Homo sapiens: one gene and its partner. The protein of the gene in region 2 interacts with the protein of the main gene of each other region in a pairwise test. Each region holds a gene or a part of one and is shown on either strand. Other genes may lie near its edges.

The links. Proteins that work in one complex are often made in the same cells at the same time.
Region 1: the proteins of NOTCH2NLA (region 2) and TMEM41A interact in binary tests that used the Homo sapiens proteins (3 or more experiments, as listed by UniProt).

Annotation. Positions count from the first base shown.
Region 1 is NC_000003.12:185,489,101-185,496,053, reverse strand, and holds the end of TMEM41A (transmembrane protein 41A precursor), read left to right. Parts: intron 1-738; coding exon 739-900; intron 901-1,292; coding exon 1,293-1,431; intron 1,432-4,296; coding exon 4,297-4,517; 3' UTR 4,518-6,453; downstream 6,454-6,953.
Region 2 is NC_000001.11:146,148,971-146,156,039, reverse strand, and holds part of NOTCH2NLA (notch homolog 2 N-terminal-like protein A), read left to right. Parts: 3' UTR 1-7,069.

The DNA.
Region 1 (6,953 bases), on a different chromosome or scaffold from region 2:
TACTGCATAGATGTAATTCCAGCAAAAAGCAAAGAAACAAGACATCTTACATAGCTTGTGTGGTCTTACCAAGGGAAAATTCATGGTTTGTGTTCATCTTTTGAAATAGTAAAAATAACTCGTGAGTTTCATTTCTACTTTCTTGGAGCCCCAGTCATTGCAGAATCTACCACAGCCACAGATCCCATTTCATTCTCTCCTGCCCCCTGAGGCTTTTATCCTTATCCTCATTTTCAAGGTGAAGAGACTGACGGCAGGTGTAGTTCCCAGCCTTTTCATAATTTTTCATTCACCTCTTTAAATGGCAATTGGGACCTGGGGCAGTGGCTCACGCCTGTAATCCTAGCACTTTGGGAGGCTGAGGTGGGAGGATCACTTGAGTCCGGGAGTTTGAAACCAGCCTGGGCAACACAGTGAGACCCCATCTCCACAAAAAATTTTAAAAAGTGGGTGAATGTGGTGGTGTGTGCCTACAGTCCTAGCTGCTTGGGAGGCTGAGGCAGGAGGATCGCTTGAGTCCAGGAGTTCGAGGATGCAGTGAGCTATGATCATGTCACTGTACTCCAGCCTGGGTGACAGAGCGAGATCCTGTTTCTTAAAAATAAATAAATAACGCAATTGGGTTTTAGCTGGAAAAAAGCAGTGAAGGAGGAGGGAACCTATGACTCTCAGGCTCCAAGATGACGTGCCTGGTAGCTGCCAGATGTTCACATGCCTGAGGGTTTGTTTTATTTGCAGAATGTTTTAGCTGGTGCCTTGTTTGGGCCATGGCTGGGGCTTCTGCTGTGCTGTGTGTTGACCTCGGTGGGTGCCACATGCTGCTACCTGCTCTCCAGTATTTTTGGCAAACAGTTGGTGGTGTCCTACTTTCCTGATAAAGTGGCCCTGCTGCAGAGAAAGGTAAGGGGAGGGGTCACATCTGAGAGCTGGGACCCCAGACAGTCGCTACGTGCATGGCCTTGAGAGAAGCGAGTGGCAGGGATTTCCCACAGTACTCTTCCACGCTGTTTCAGGAGGTCCTAGGGGTTCTTTTGATGTCTTCAGGAGACATAGACCTGGGATCAAATCCCAGCTCCATCATTACCAGCTCTGTGACTTTGGGCAAGTTCTTGACTTCTCTGATCCTCAGCATGTCTATTTTAAAATGAGGAAAACAGTCTTTCCCTGGAGGGTTGTTGGAAGAATTGGGAACAGATTATGTAAAGTGTCTAGAACAGTGCCTGGCACCAGCAGGTTTTCAACACCTGGAGACCCTTTCTGCTTCTTAACAGCTTTCTTCTCTTTGGCTACAGGTGGAGGAGAACAGAAACAGCTTGTTTTTTTTCTTATTGTTTTTGAGACTTTTCCCCATGACACCAAACTGGTTCTTGAACCTCTCGGCCCCAATTCTGAACATTCCCATCGTGCAGTTCTTCTTCTCAGTTCTTATCGGTAAGATGCTAGTGGGGTAGGTTTGAGTCTTCAGAGCTGTCACGCTGGGGGTCTGCCCTGGGTTATTGGCCACGTGAGCATGTGCCTGCTTCTGAGAACACAGGCTCACAAAGTGTGACTTCAAGCCTTATGATCTAAAGAAATGATTCCTGATTTCAGATCTGCTCAGGCTTCAACATGAAAACCCATAAAAATACTTTTGGACTAAATAAAGATTGTCCATTGCATGGCTGTATGCACTAGGCACTGGGATTAGAAGAGATGGTCTGTGTAAAGTATACAAATTGGCCCATAGTAAGTACTCAGTAAATGCTAGCAGGAAGAGCAGGGTTGGAATGAGGGTGTGTGTCCATGAGTTTTGAGTGGGGACAGAAGAAAGGAGCAGAGCAAGGGACTTCCTGTCTGGTTTTTGGCCCCTGTTTTGATTAAGTTCTGCCTTAGGAATTGCTGGCATCAGTGTGGTTCCTTCCTGCCTTTTGACAATTGCACAACCTGCAGCAAGCTACTTACCCTCAATGGACCACCTGGCTAGGAATAGAGCAGTGTTTCTCAAAGTGTGGGCTTTGGGCCACCTTCATCAGATTGTTAGGGTCAGGGGGCTTGTTGAGAATCTAGATTTGGGGCCTACTCCAGACCTACTGAATCAGAATCTTGGGAGTGGAATCTGGGAATATGCATTTTAATCCAGTTCCTAGTCAGTCATTTTCAAACTGCAAACCCAGTCATTCTCAAACTGCAAACCTATTAAGAATCGCCTGCAAACCTATTAAAAATCACTTGGAGGCCGGGCTGAGTGGCTCACACCTGTAATCCCAGCACTTTGGGAGGTTGAGGCGGGTGGATCACTTGAGGTTGGGAGTTCAAGACCAGCCTGGCCAACATGGTGAAACCCCATCTCTACTAAAAATACAAAAATTAGCCTGACATGGTGGTGTGCGTCTGTAATTCAACTACTTGGGAGGCTGAGGCAGGAGAATGGCTTGAACCTGGGAGGCGGAGGTTGCAGTAAGCTGAGAGGATGACACTTCACTCCAGCCTGGGTGACAGAGTGAGGCTCCATCTCAAGAAAAAAAGCAAAAAAACAAAAACAAACAAAACAACAAAACATCACCTGTGGAGATTTTAATCCCTAAGCTAAGGCTACACCACACATCAACTAAATCATCTCTGGGGTAGGACTCAGGGATCAGGATCTTTTAACATTTTCCAGGTGATGCAAGTAGTTAGTCCCTAAAAGGGATTCCGCTGGATCCTGAGTTTTGCAGTCTACTGAATTAGACGATATCTAAAGTTTCTCCTTGCCTTTGACAATTATATGACCTGCAGCGAGCTACTTAGTCTGAACGGGCTACTCGTCCAGATAAGGGGCTGGGACTAGAGCAGTGTTTCTTGAAGTATGGGCCTTGGACCACCTTTATCAGAGTGGTAAAGTGCTAACATCCTATAAAATCAGTGTTTGCTACTTTCTCCATACTGGAAGAAAACCACCCTCCTTAAGCCTAAGGCAAGGATCTCTTCTCTTAAACCTCCCTTAGATCCTAGAGGGAAAGACGATTCAGGGCTTCTAGGTCAAACAGAGCAAATCTGTGGTTGAGCAGCTGCTATTCATAGGAGATACCTGAGAGAAATGGAGATCTTAAATAGAAGCAAGATCTACCACGGCCAATTTTGGTCATATTGGCTTTCAGACAAAGTGCCTCAGGCCCTCAGCTAGTGGGGGTTTGCTGCTTCTAATTACCTAGGTGGCATGAGGCTTGGCAAGATTCTGGAGACCAGGCTTCCTGTCCTCTGTCTCACAAGCTGTGTGACCCTGAGGGGTCTGGGATCTTCATCTCCTGTATACTTCCTCTCCTATAGAAGAGAAATGGACTATCAGAGTGTTCCAAACCAATCGGAATCTCAGGGTGGGAGTGGAGAAGGGGCTTTTAAAATACAGGTTCCTGGGCACTACCCCAGAACCAAGTACCCAGAATTTCTGGGGTGGAGCCCAAGGATGTGGTTTTTTAACAATGTCACCAGCTGATTGTTCTGCAGCCAGCCTGTTCAGCCAGCCAGACTTTTGGAATCCAGTGGATTTGATGACATCTTTGAGACAGTACAGAATGTGAATAGTACTTCTTTTAAAAAACTGTTTGTCAACAATGGCACTTCTCTCTTTACTTTGGCTGTTGGGTACTCAGAACCAAATTTGGGGCCCACTTTTGGCAAACAGGTGAACCTTATGCATTTTTTTACTAACTGTACTCCCTGATGTCTTGTATTCTTCTGCACGCATTTTGCTTTTCCTATTTAAAATTTTATTTATTTATTTATTTATTTTTGAGACAGAGTCTAGCTCTATCGCCTGGGCTGAAGTGCAGTGGTAAGATCTTGGCTCACTGCCACCTCTGCCTCCCAGGTTCCAGTGATTCTCCTGCCTCAGCCTCCTGAGTAGCTAGGATTACAGGCACATGCCACCACACCCGGCTAATTTTTGTGTTTTTAGTAGAGACGGGGTTTCACCATGTTGGCCAGGCTGATCTCGAACTCCTGACCTCAGGTGATCCACCTCGGCCTCCCAAAGTGCTGGGATTACAAGCATAAGCCACCATTCCTGGCCCTATTTTAAAATTGTCTTATAGTAGCATGTATTATTTGTGTAAATATCTCAAGTTCTTTTGTTGAACAAGACAGGCATATATGGGAAGTGAGGAAAGGAGGGAAAATAATAGAAAAGAAGGAAAGAAGGGAAAGAGTTAATATGTATAAGGGTCAAGAGTCAAGCAAAAAAAAACCGTAGTCACTGTTCCTGGTGACATTCTGAATTATTATTTTCTTAATTTTGCTGCTGCTTGTAACAGGTGCTTTGTCCTTTTCTTCTTCCAGGTTTGATCCCATATAATTTCATCTGTGTGCAGACAGGGTCCATCCTGTCAACCCTAACCTCTCTGGATGCTCTTTTCTCCTGGGACACTGTCTTTAAGCTGTTGGCCATTGCCATGGTGGCATTAATTCCTGGAACCCTCATTAAAAAATTTAGTCAGAAACATCTGCAATTGAATGAAACAAGTACTGCTAATCATATACACAGTAGAAAAGACACATGATCTGGATTTTCTGTTTGCCACATCCCTGGACTCAGTTGCTTATTTGTGTAATGGATGTGGTCCTCTAAAGCCCCTCATTGTTTTTGATTGCCTTCTATAGGTGATGTGGACACTGTGCATCAATGTGCAGTGTCTTTTCAGAAAGGACACTCTGCTCTTGAAGGTGTATTACATCAGGTTTTCAAACCAGCCCTGGTGTAGCAGACACTGCAACAGATGCCTCCTAGAAAATGCTGTTTGTGGCCGGGCGCGGTGGCTCACGCCTGTAATCCCAGCACTTTGGGAGGCCGAGGCCGGTGATTCACAAGGTCAGGAGTTCAAGACCAGCCTGGCCAAGATGGTGAAATCCTGTCTCTAATAAAAATACAAAAATTAGCCAGGCGTGGTGGCAGGCACCTGTAATCCCAGCTACTCGGGAGGCTGAGGCAGGAGAATTGCTTGAACCAAGGTGGCAGAGGTTGCAGTAAGCCAAGATCACACCACTGCACTCCAGCCTGGGTGATAGAGTGAGACACTGTCTTGACAAAAAAAAAAAAAAAAAGAGAAAAAAAGAAAATGCTGTTTGTATTTTGTGGTCTAATAAGGAGTTCGGGATAGCCTGTTGTATTTGCCTCATGCCAGCCCCTGAGCTGCCTTGGGAGAAGATGCTGATTGTCCTTGTCCAGAGTACTGCTTTTGCAGAGTGACAGGCTGCTGGGACAGATGTCCTCCTGTTGCATCTTTGTGGATGTTTAGTACCAATGATGACACGGGAACTCACATCACTGACACCGCTCTTCATCTTCTGTTAGTCTCTTGAAGAGCATTTTTTTGTACTTCTTTGCTGATGACCTACCTCTTCATAAGCCAAGTGAAACAAGTTGACGAACTGCCTAGGACTTCCACGTGTTGCTCACATACATGATGATTTCTGTCACGCTCTTGTGTTCAGACACACTGACATTACCATGTATGTCAGACCTCCTTATGATCGCATGTCCTGACAGTTAAGCTGATTGCAAACAGACTATTAAATATGAATGGAGCAAACGCTGTATGTCATGGATATGTTCTGGAGAAATTCTTACCCATCTGGATGGGGCAGGGCCCTTGACTCACCTGAATCATGACCAGGCAAACATTTTATCTGTCCTTTCTGCAGGAATCCGTTCTGTGTCATGCTAGGAGAATGGGTTCAGTATATGGGGCCATCAGGCAGTATACCCTCTGAATGTTTTTCATTGTTGTATTTGCTTAGAGTAACTAAACAATTGTATCTTTTAATTTATCTTTTAATTCAAAGAGGAAACCTTGGCTTCTGATAACTTTGTTGTGTTGTATCTTAATGGCCTATAGCTGTCATTACTTCCTGTAGCTGCAGTACAGAATTGTTACAGACCTGGATTAATGCTTCCAAAGACAGAAGGACCTTGGCACCTAAACTGACCAGCCCTGTGATCCTGCACCCCACAGGAGTAACTCATCAGGACTTACCAGACTGCTGCTTTTGGGCATCATCTGCTGGGTTGATGATTTGGTTTGGCCAAGAGTCTTGCCAAGACTTTAATCTATGCCTCTTGTTCTACATGAATTCTTGGGAATTACTCACGTTCCATAGGAAGAGTGCATCCCCAGGTGATGGTTTTTGGTTATGGTATGATCCTTTCACACCGAGGATTTCATTGTTTAAAACGTGTTTCTTTAAAAGAAGCCTTGATAACGAGAGTGGGGGAAGGAGGCAGCAGACTTTGAAGACTGTGGCCTTTGGTGTTCTGGAGTAGGGGGAGGGAAGGAGAAACATGTTTTCCACATCATCGCAAGTGTGTGCCCTTTGCCCCTTTTCAGGATCCTTAGAGTTGCCTCCCTCCCTCCACCCCGACAGTTTTGCAATAATGTGCCTTATCAGTTGTGAGTTTACAGGTGAAGCAATTTCCCAAATAAATGGATGTAAGTGTTCTGTGTGGTGCTTGTTTGAACATGTTGCTAACTTTCAACTACCTTTGCCAGTGGGAATTAGGATTGGCTGAAAATTGGACAGTCCAAAATGGTGTTTTAAGCTTTCCACTCTCAATGCTTCTTACCAAAATAATTTCTCAGAAGCCAGATTTTCATCTTCATTTTCTCTCTCTGCTCCCTGTATAGTGGGGTCAGTAGTAACAGGAGTAGCTACCGGATGGGCAGCAGGAAAGCATAGGGAAGAAGCAGAGTGCCAGTCTAGCTTTTACAGAATACTCAAGAAGAGGCTGTCACCAAATAAAATGATGATTGCCCCTTCCTTTCGTGGCTGTGTCAAATACAAGAATCGCAGAAACTAGCTTTCTCCATTACCTGCTTTTTGTGGCTGCAGGAAACCCAGTCATGGAAAGTCTTCCTTTCCCTCAAGTTCTGACAAATGCTGAGATTATTAAGGCAGCTCTCAGGGCACAAACAGTACATTTAGAAAAAGACAGGACTAGA
Region 2 (7,069 bases):
ATTGTTTTCTTATCCACCTAAATGCACCCAGCTGCCCTTGATTTTCTCTGGGCTACTGGCCTTCACAACCCTCTCCCATGTACCCTCTCTGACTTTGGGGTAACCCTCCCCTAACTTAAAGCTAGAGAATTCTGAAACTGAGGAGGGGATCCTCTGTTAATCAGTGAGCACTTTTTGATGAGCTGATAGATGATATATGAGAGACTATGCGTGGCACAATACTTTGTTACACTCTTCACTGATACAAGTGTTCTAGAGTGTACACACAACCCAAAGATAGAAATAAAAAGAGGAGCAGTGTCGGGGAGCTTGGGGCCTGGTGTTCCATGGAGAGGGAGAAAGGAACAAGCTTGACCAATTCATTCAACTCCTTATAAAAATGATGAGGAGGCTGAAAACCAAGAATTTTGATTGGGAACAGAATACAAGCAGCTGAATCAGATGAATTACTAAGCAACAAAGATCCTGTTTTTATACAAATATCCTTAGTACAAAAACAAAAGAAGGAAAACTGTAGGGGGGAGTAATGTGCTAAGTAAGCAGAATTGCCTCAAAAAGAAGTTGTTCTAGTTACTCTTTCAGAGTGGGAATCTTAGATTCTGGTATTGTGGATATGGTTCACATATAATGGGATTGTGTGTTTTATTTTGGAGGGATTAAAGGTCATAGTTTGGTCCTCAGTATAAAATCAACTGGTAATTTATTCATTTCATTTGGTAAAAATGTATTGACTGCCTGCTATGTTCTAGGCACCATGCTATGTATTTGGAATACAGCTATACAAAGCATTGTCACATAATTGAAATGAAAATTTTATATTATTTAAGTCACAAGAACAAGCTATTTAATTATATTACTTTTAGTTTCTCTTTTAATAAAGAATAGATAATGCTATCATTCTAGATACTAAATAAGTATTTTCTTAACATAATATTACTATCCACTTTATCTTGTAGAAGAAATAACTAAAATACATCTGTCTTCACTCCTGTATTTGTTTGCATTTTAAGGATTAAAGACAGAAATAGAAATGTAAACAACTTTATTTTGAAAATATTTCAACACTGCAAATATCTCTGGGTCTGATATTCTAGTAATCTAATTGGCTAGTAATTGATGTTAGTGTGATTTATTGTTGAAGGCTAAATGTGTTTTTCAGTTTCAAGAAAATTGCTTTTAATAATTGCCTAGAACAAGAGGTTGATTTGGCAGCAAGATGTTGACGGGAAGTTAGAGAAGTCAATAAAGGAAGTTTTTAGCTGAGAGAGAGTGATTATTCACTCCCATAGCCTCTGCATTGTTATCCATTAGCCACGATAAGAACCTTAGGGAATTCTGAGAGTGTGTCCAGGAAAGGATCTGTCAAACTAGAATAGTATCTCCTCCTTGAGAAAGGAAATAACCAAGGATTCCGCAGCTGAGAGGCTGCCAGGGCTAGTGAAATAGAGTAAGGAAATCTTGGCTGTCTCTTATTCTCTGGTTGTAGTTTAACGCAAGACACTTATTTACTCACTGATGGTGTGTGTGTGTGTGGGAGGGGAGATTAGCATGAGGGGTGGGAATGGGGAGATTCGATGAAGAGAAAACTAACATTTTTTTGGTGACTCAGGAACTGTGCCAGGTACTTCCATGCTTATTAGCTCAATTACACAAAAATCTTGGGACCAGGTATTATTTTTCAAGTCTTCCCACATGAAGTAACTGAAGTTTGGAGATGTTAAGTGATTCACCCAAAGTTGTACAGCTAATATGTGGTTAGGCTGGGTCCTGAAACCGAGGCAGTTTATTTTCAAAGCCTTTGCTTTGTGCATCTTACTGCGCCACATTGCACTGCACATCTGCTTCCTGAAAGCACTTTGTAGGTGTGTAAAACTTTTCGTTAAATGCTTTAAGCTGTTTGGGTTAAAAATATATGTTCATGTTATAAGAAAACCAAGACACTCCTAATTATAATCAAATAGTACTTGTTACATATCAATATGTGTGTGTGTGTGTGTGTGTGTGTGTGTGTGTGTGTGTGTGTGTGTGTGTGTATGGCGTTGTGCAGATGTTTAAAAGTAGTTACATAGACTAGTTCTTGCTTTTCAGGGTCCCATAATCTAAACCAGATGACTTCAGCTTTGGATAAATATATAGAAGGAAATTTAAAGAGAATTCAAAACAATAGATGATGCAGTGACACTGTGAATAAATGTTATTTATACAGTTTGTAAGATTTCATGCTCATTGTTCATATGTCCCAGGTGGAGTTCAGAAAATATTCTCTTCATTTCCACAAAGGGGAATAGTGCCTGGAGATGGTTTTCTTTTAAAAAGTCCTTTTCATAATGCAGTGCCCTTCCTTCCATTGCCCTTCATTCCATTGCTTCCCATGCTTGTCAAGAGACTAAAATGTTACTTATAGTAATAGTCACTATCTCAATGTAAATAGCACCCTTATTTGATGAGAATTATTATTTCAGTTCTAAAAATGGGGAAACAAAGTCAGCAGGAGGCAAAGTAGCTTGTTAAAGTATTCTGCAACTTTCAAATGGTTGCTTCCACTGCATTTCACGTCTTGGCACTTCTAATTGAGGGTTACTCTAACCACCCTATTTAAAATTGTAACTGTCCCCCACCCCCTTAATTACTAACCCTGGTCTACTTTTTGTTTTCTTTTTCTGTAACTCTTATCTTCTTACTATATAATTTATACTATATAATTTACTTCATTATGTCTATTGTTCATTGTCTGTCTTTTCCAAATTCTACTGCCTCTTACCCTCTCCAGAATGAAAACTAGTATCTTTGTTTTTGTTTACTGATGTAACCCAAACACCTACAAACAGTGCCCAGTATATACTAGGCCCACAAATATATATTGGCTGACTGACTGTATGGTTTAGTATCATGTCATAGTATTGAGACTGTAACTTTGGTCTTCTCATTTTCTTCTTTGTATTGTGCGTCCTAGACTTAGTTTGGCCTCTCCTTTTGTCCTTGTATACTCTAATACTGGATAAGAATTTTGGAGTCTTTTTCAACTCTGAGTCAGTGAATGCCACATAACTTAGTGACTATATTTAAATGGTTAATTTACAATTTTTTCCCTGCAAAGGATACTGTAGTCACTGTGAGTATTTTAGTATTATTGTAGGACTCAAGAGGGAATTAAAACTACAAAAATGACTCCTCTTGTATGACACAGAAAGAAATGTTTCTTCACAGAGGGAGGAGAAAAATATCTTCAAGAGAGAACTAATAGAATCAAATCAATGAACCATGTCTCATCTTTTTGGATAAGTAACTGTTAGTAATCCAGACACTTCATGAGCTTTCATTATGTAAAGTCTTTAGCAGAAGCTAAAGGAGGGGCACCAACCACAGTAATTTTAACTTAAGAACAAAATGGAGCATGAAAATAAATTATTAAATCATTTACTCCCACTATTTTTGGGTTAGGGCCAATAATGGGGAGAGAAAGAGGTAGACTAGTTTTGTGTTTGTGGCTATTTTAATAGAGTAGCACAAGTAATCAAAAAACAGTAGGCTGTTTTGAATTTACTGGCTGTCCCTTATGAGTTCACAGTTAGATTGGACTGTCCTCAATGTACTTTCTTTTTTTTCTTTCTTTCCCACATCTCTTTATTTCTCTGATTTTGTTTAAACTTCATAAAGAGCTCTCTGATCTTTCCTTTCCAAACAATGAAGGTTTATCCTTTGTAAACTACCTCTGTACTCCACAGGCTGATGATATGTGATATCCCTATATCATTAAAGTAAAGCCTAAGCACATTCTATGGCTTTTGTGTCTACTCTGTTGTTGCTGAGCTTATGAACTATTAGAAATAACTCCCTCTTGCATTTTCACACATGGGGAATGTGATGTTCTCTTGGGTATTATGCTAATCATATTTTGGCAGGTTTCTCTGGAGCAGATGCAGAAATGATCATACCACTTTCCAGGGTGTATTATTTTAGCTCCTTTGACTTGGGCCCTAAGTCTGTTTTACCTGATGTTCCTGAAAGATGTTCCTGATGTCCTTCACTGTTCTTTCATGCTGGATGTTCTTGCCTATGCTGCCTCCTCAGCTATCACCCTCTCTTCCCCTTTTTAATGTAGAACTCATTCTTAATGATTTGTCAAAGGCACCCTATTTCACTGAAATGCCTTCTATATTCCCTACCCTCCAAGTGGATTGTAGACCTTCTAAGGTCTTTTGACATCTGCATATCTCTAGCACAGCACTTATCACGGTGATTATTTATCTGTTCATCTTTCCAAGTAGACACTCTCATTTTAACTCCCTACCCTAGTCGCCAGCATCCCCAGCATAGTGCCTGTCATAAAATGGTGCCACAATGAAAATTTGAAAAATGAATGAACGTGATAAACATAGATGAGAATCCTATATTCTACAATTTTTTAAATGTACTGAAATTATTCTTTTTGAATCCTCCTATTTATTTCTGTGACTTCTTTGATGACAAAGTTAGAAAAAAGTGGAGGTCAGTAGGGAGATATGAAGGGACGCAGGTGGAAGCAGTGAGCCTGGGCGGGTGATGGAGTGGGAGATACGTGGCACAGGGGTCAGTGAGTTAATCTGGGCTCATTCAGAGAATGGAAGGTGTGTGCCAAGAAAACTGGTTGGATAGGGATAGGTCAGGGATTCCCTCTTGCATTCTCACACTTGGGGGCATGTGTCATTTTCTTTTCTTTTCTTTTTTTTTTTTTTTTTTTTTGAGACGGAGCATCGCTCTTTCTCCCAGGCTGGAGTGCAATGGTGCTATCTCGGCTCACTGCAACCTCCACCTCCCGGGTTCAAGCTATTCTCATGTCTCAGCCTTCCAAGTAGCTGGGACTACAGGTGCCTGCCACCATGCTCAGCTAATTTTTGTATTTTTAGTAGAGATGGGGTTTCACCATGTTGGTCAGGTTGGCCTCGAACTCCTGATCTCAGGTGATCCACCTGCCTCGGCTTCTCAAAGTGCTGGGATTCCAGGCATGAGCCACCATGCCTGGCCGCATGTGTCATTTTCTTGGGTGTTATACTGATCGTATATTTGCAGGTTTGCTTTTGTGACAGACTTCTTCTGGGGGAAAAAAAGTATCCTTCTATCTTTTTACTTTTGTCCAGTTCCAGGTATCCCTGTTTTTTTCTTCACTCTTCCTTCCTTGTTCATGGGAGTTTTTCTTGAGGACTTCAAGCCCAGCTTCGGAGAATCCTGGTTGTGTCATCTCATCTCCTTTCTGCTCTCTTCTCTACCTAGCCTTTCCACCCTCACACCTCCCGGGGTCTGAAAATGGAAAGATAAGGGTGTTTCCCTGAAAGTTGCTCTTCTGTGTGGGGATGACAGGTTCTAAAGACTCTTTTCTGGTCCCTGCCCTCATTGCCATGATTAATCAGTTAAGTGGCCCGAGGTTTTATAACAGCACAGTCTTAAAATGCTTCTCCCAAGTTTAATTTCTCTCCATTTGACCTTTTAAGGATGTGAATTGGCTTTAAGCAGTAGACTCCCTTTAGTACGGTGCTGTGAGCCTCTCAGTGAATCTGCTACATCCATTCCACCCACGGGTCTGGAAACTTGTCTGTTTACCTTTCCCTAAAAACCTAAGATATATTTTTAAGAAGTGCCTTGTAACTTTTCATATAGCCTTTCCCCTACTTTGGGTAGACTGTTTCTTACAGGAATTTGGTAGATCTTTCCAAAGAGAATTCTGTATCTGTATTTTTAAAGCATAAATCCTGTCAACTTTGGAGGAGAACTGATTTGGCTTGAGTTTTCTCAGACATGGGAACTTTTGACCTAAGTTTGTATTTTACATTGTTGAAAGGGAACTCCGGGATCCCAGAAAACATATGGACTGCAATTGGGTAAAGTTTCTGTTCCAGAAATGCCTCTTCTGGACATTTCATACAAATGGAAACATGCAGCATGTAGTAATTTATGACAGCTTCTTTCACTTAGCATGAGGTTTTCAAAGTTCATTGATGTGGTAGCATTTGTCAGTACTCTGTGCCTTTTTATGGCTGAATAATATTTTATCATATGGATTTACCACATTTTATCATTTTATTTATCCATCATCAGTTGATTGACATTTGAGTTGCTTCTACTTTTTGAGTATTATCAATAATTCTGTTATGAACATTCTTGTATAATTTTTTGGTAGACATTTATCTTCATATTTCTTGGATATATACCTAGGAGCAGAATTGCTGCGTCAGATGGTAATGCTGTTTAACCTTTTCAGGAACTGTCAGACTGTTCTGAAGTGGGTACATTATTTTACATTCCAACCAGCAGTGTATGAGAATTCCAGTTTCTCCACATCCTCATCAACAGTTGTTATTGTCTGTCTTTTTTATTATATTCATCTGTAATGTGAAGTGTTTATCTCATTGTGGTTTTGATTTACATTTCCCTGATGGTTGATGATTTTCAACATCTTTTCATATACTTATTAGTCATTATGTATCTTCTTTGGAGAATGTCTGTTCAGATCCTTTACCTACTTTATAATTGGTTTATCTTTTTAATATTGAACTGTAATAGTTTTTAAAAAATATATCCTAAATACAAGTCTCTTATCAGATAATATGATTTGCAGATATTTTCTGTCATTCTATGTACTGTCTTTTCACATTCTTGATGATATACTTTTCAGCCCAAATGTTTTTAACTTGATGGAATACAATTTATTTTTTCTTTTGTTGCTTGTGCTTTCAGTCATATTTGTGAAAACTTTGCTTATCCCACATTACAAAGATTTACTATTTCTAAGTGATTTATAATTTTACCACCTACCTTTAGGTCTCTGATCCATTTTGAGTTAATTTTTATGTGCGAGGAGGGAGTCTAACTTGATTCTTTTACATGTGGATATTTAGTTGTCCCAGGACCATTTGTTGAATTAAGTGCCCAGAACAAGTACATCTATATATAGAGAAAGTAGATTAGTGGTTGTCAGAGACTGTAAGAAGTGGGGAATTGGAGAGTGACTGCCCATAGGTACAGGCATGCTTTTTGGCATTATGAAAATATTCTGGAATTAGGTAGTGGTGATGGTTGCAGAACTTTTGGAATA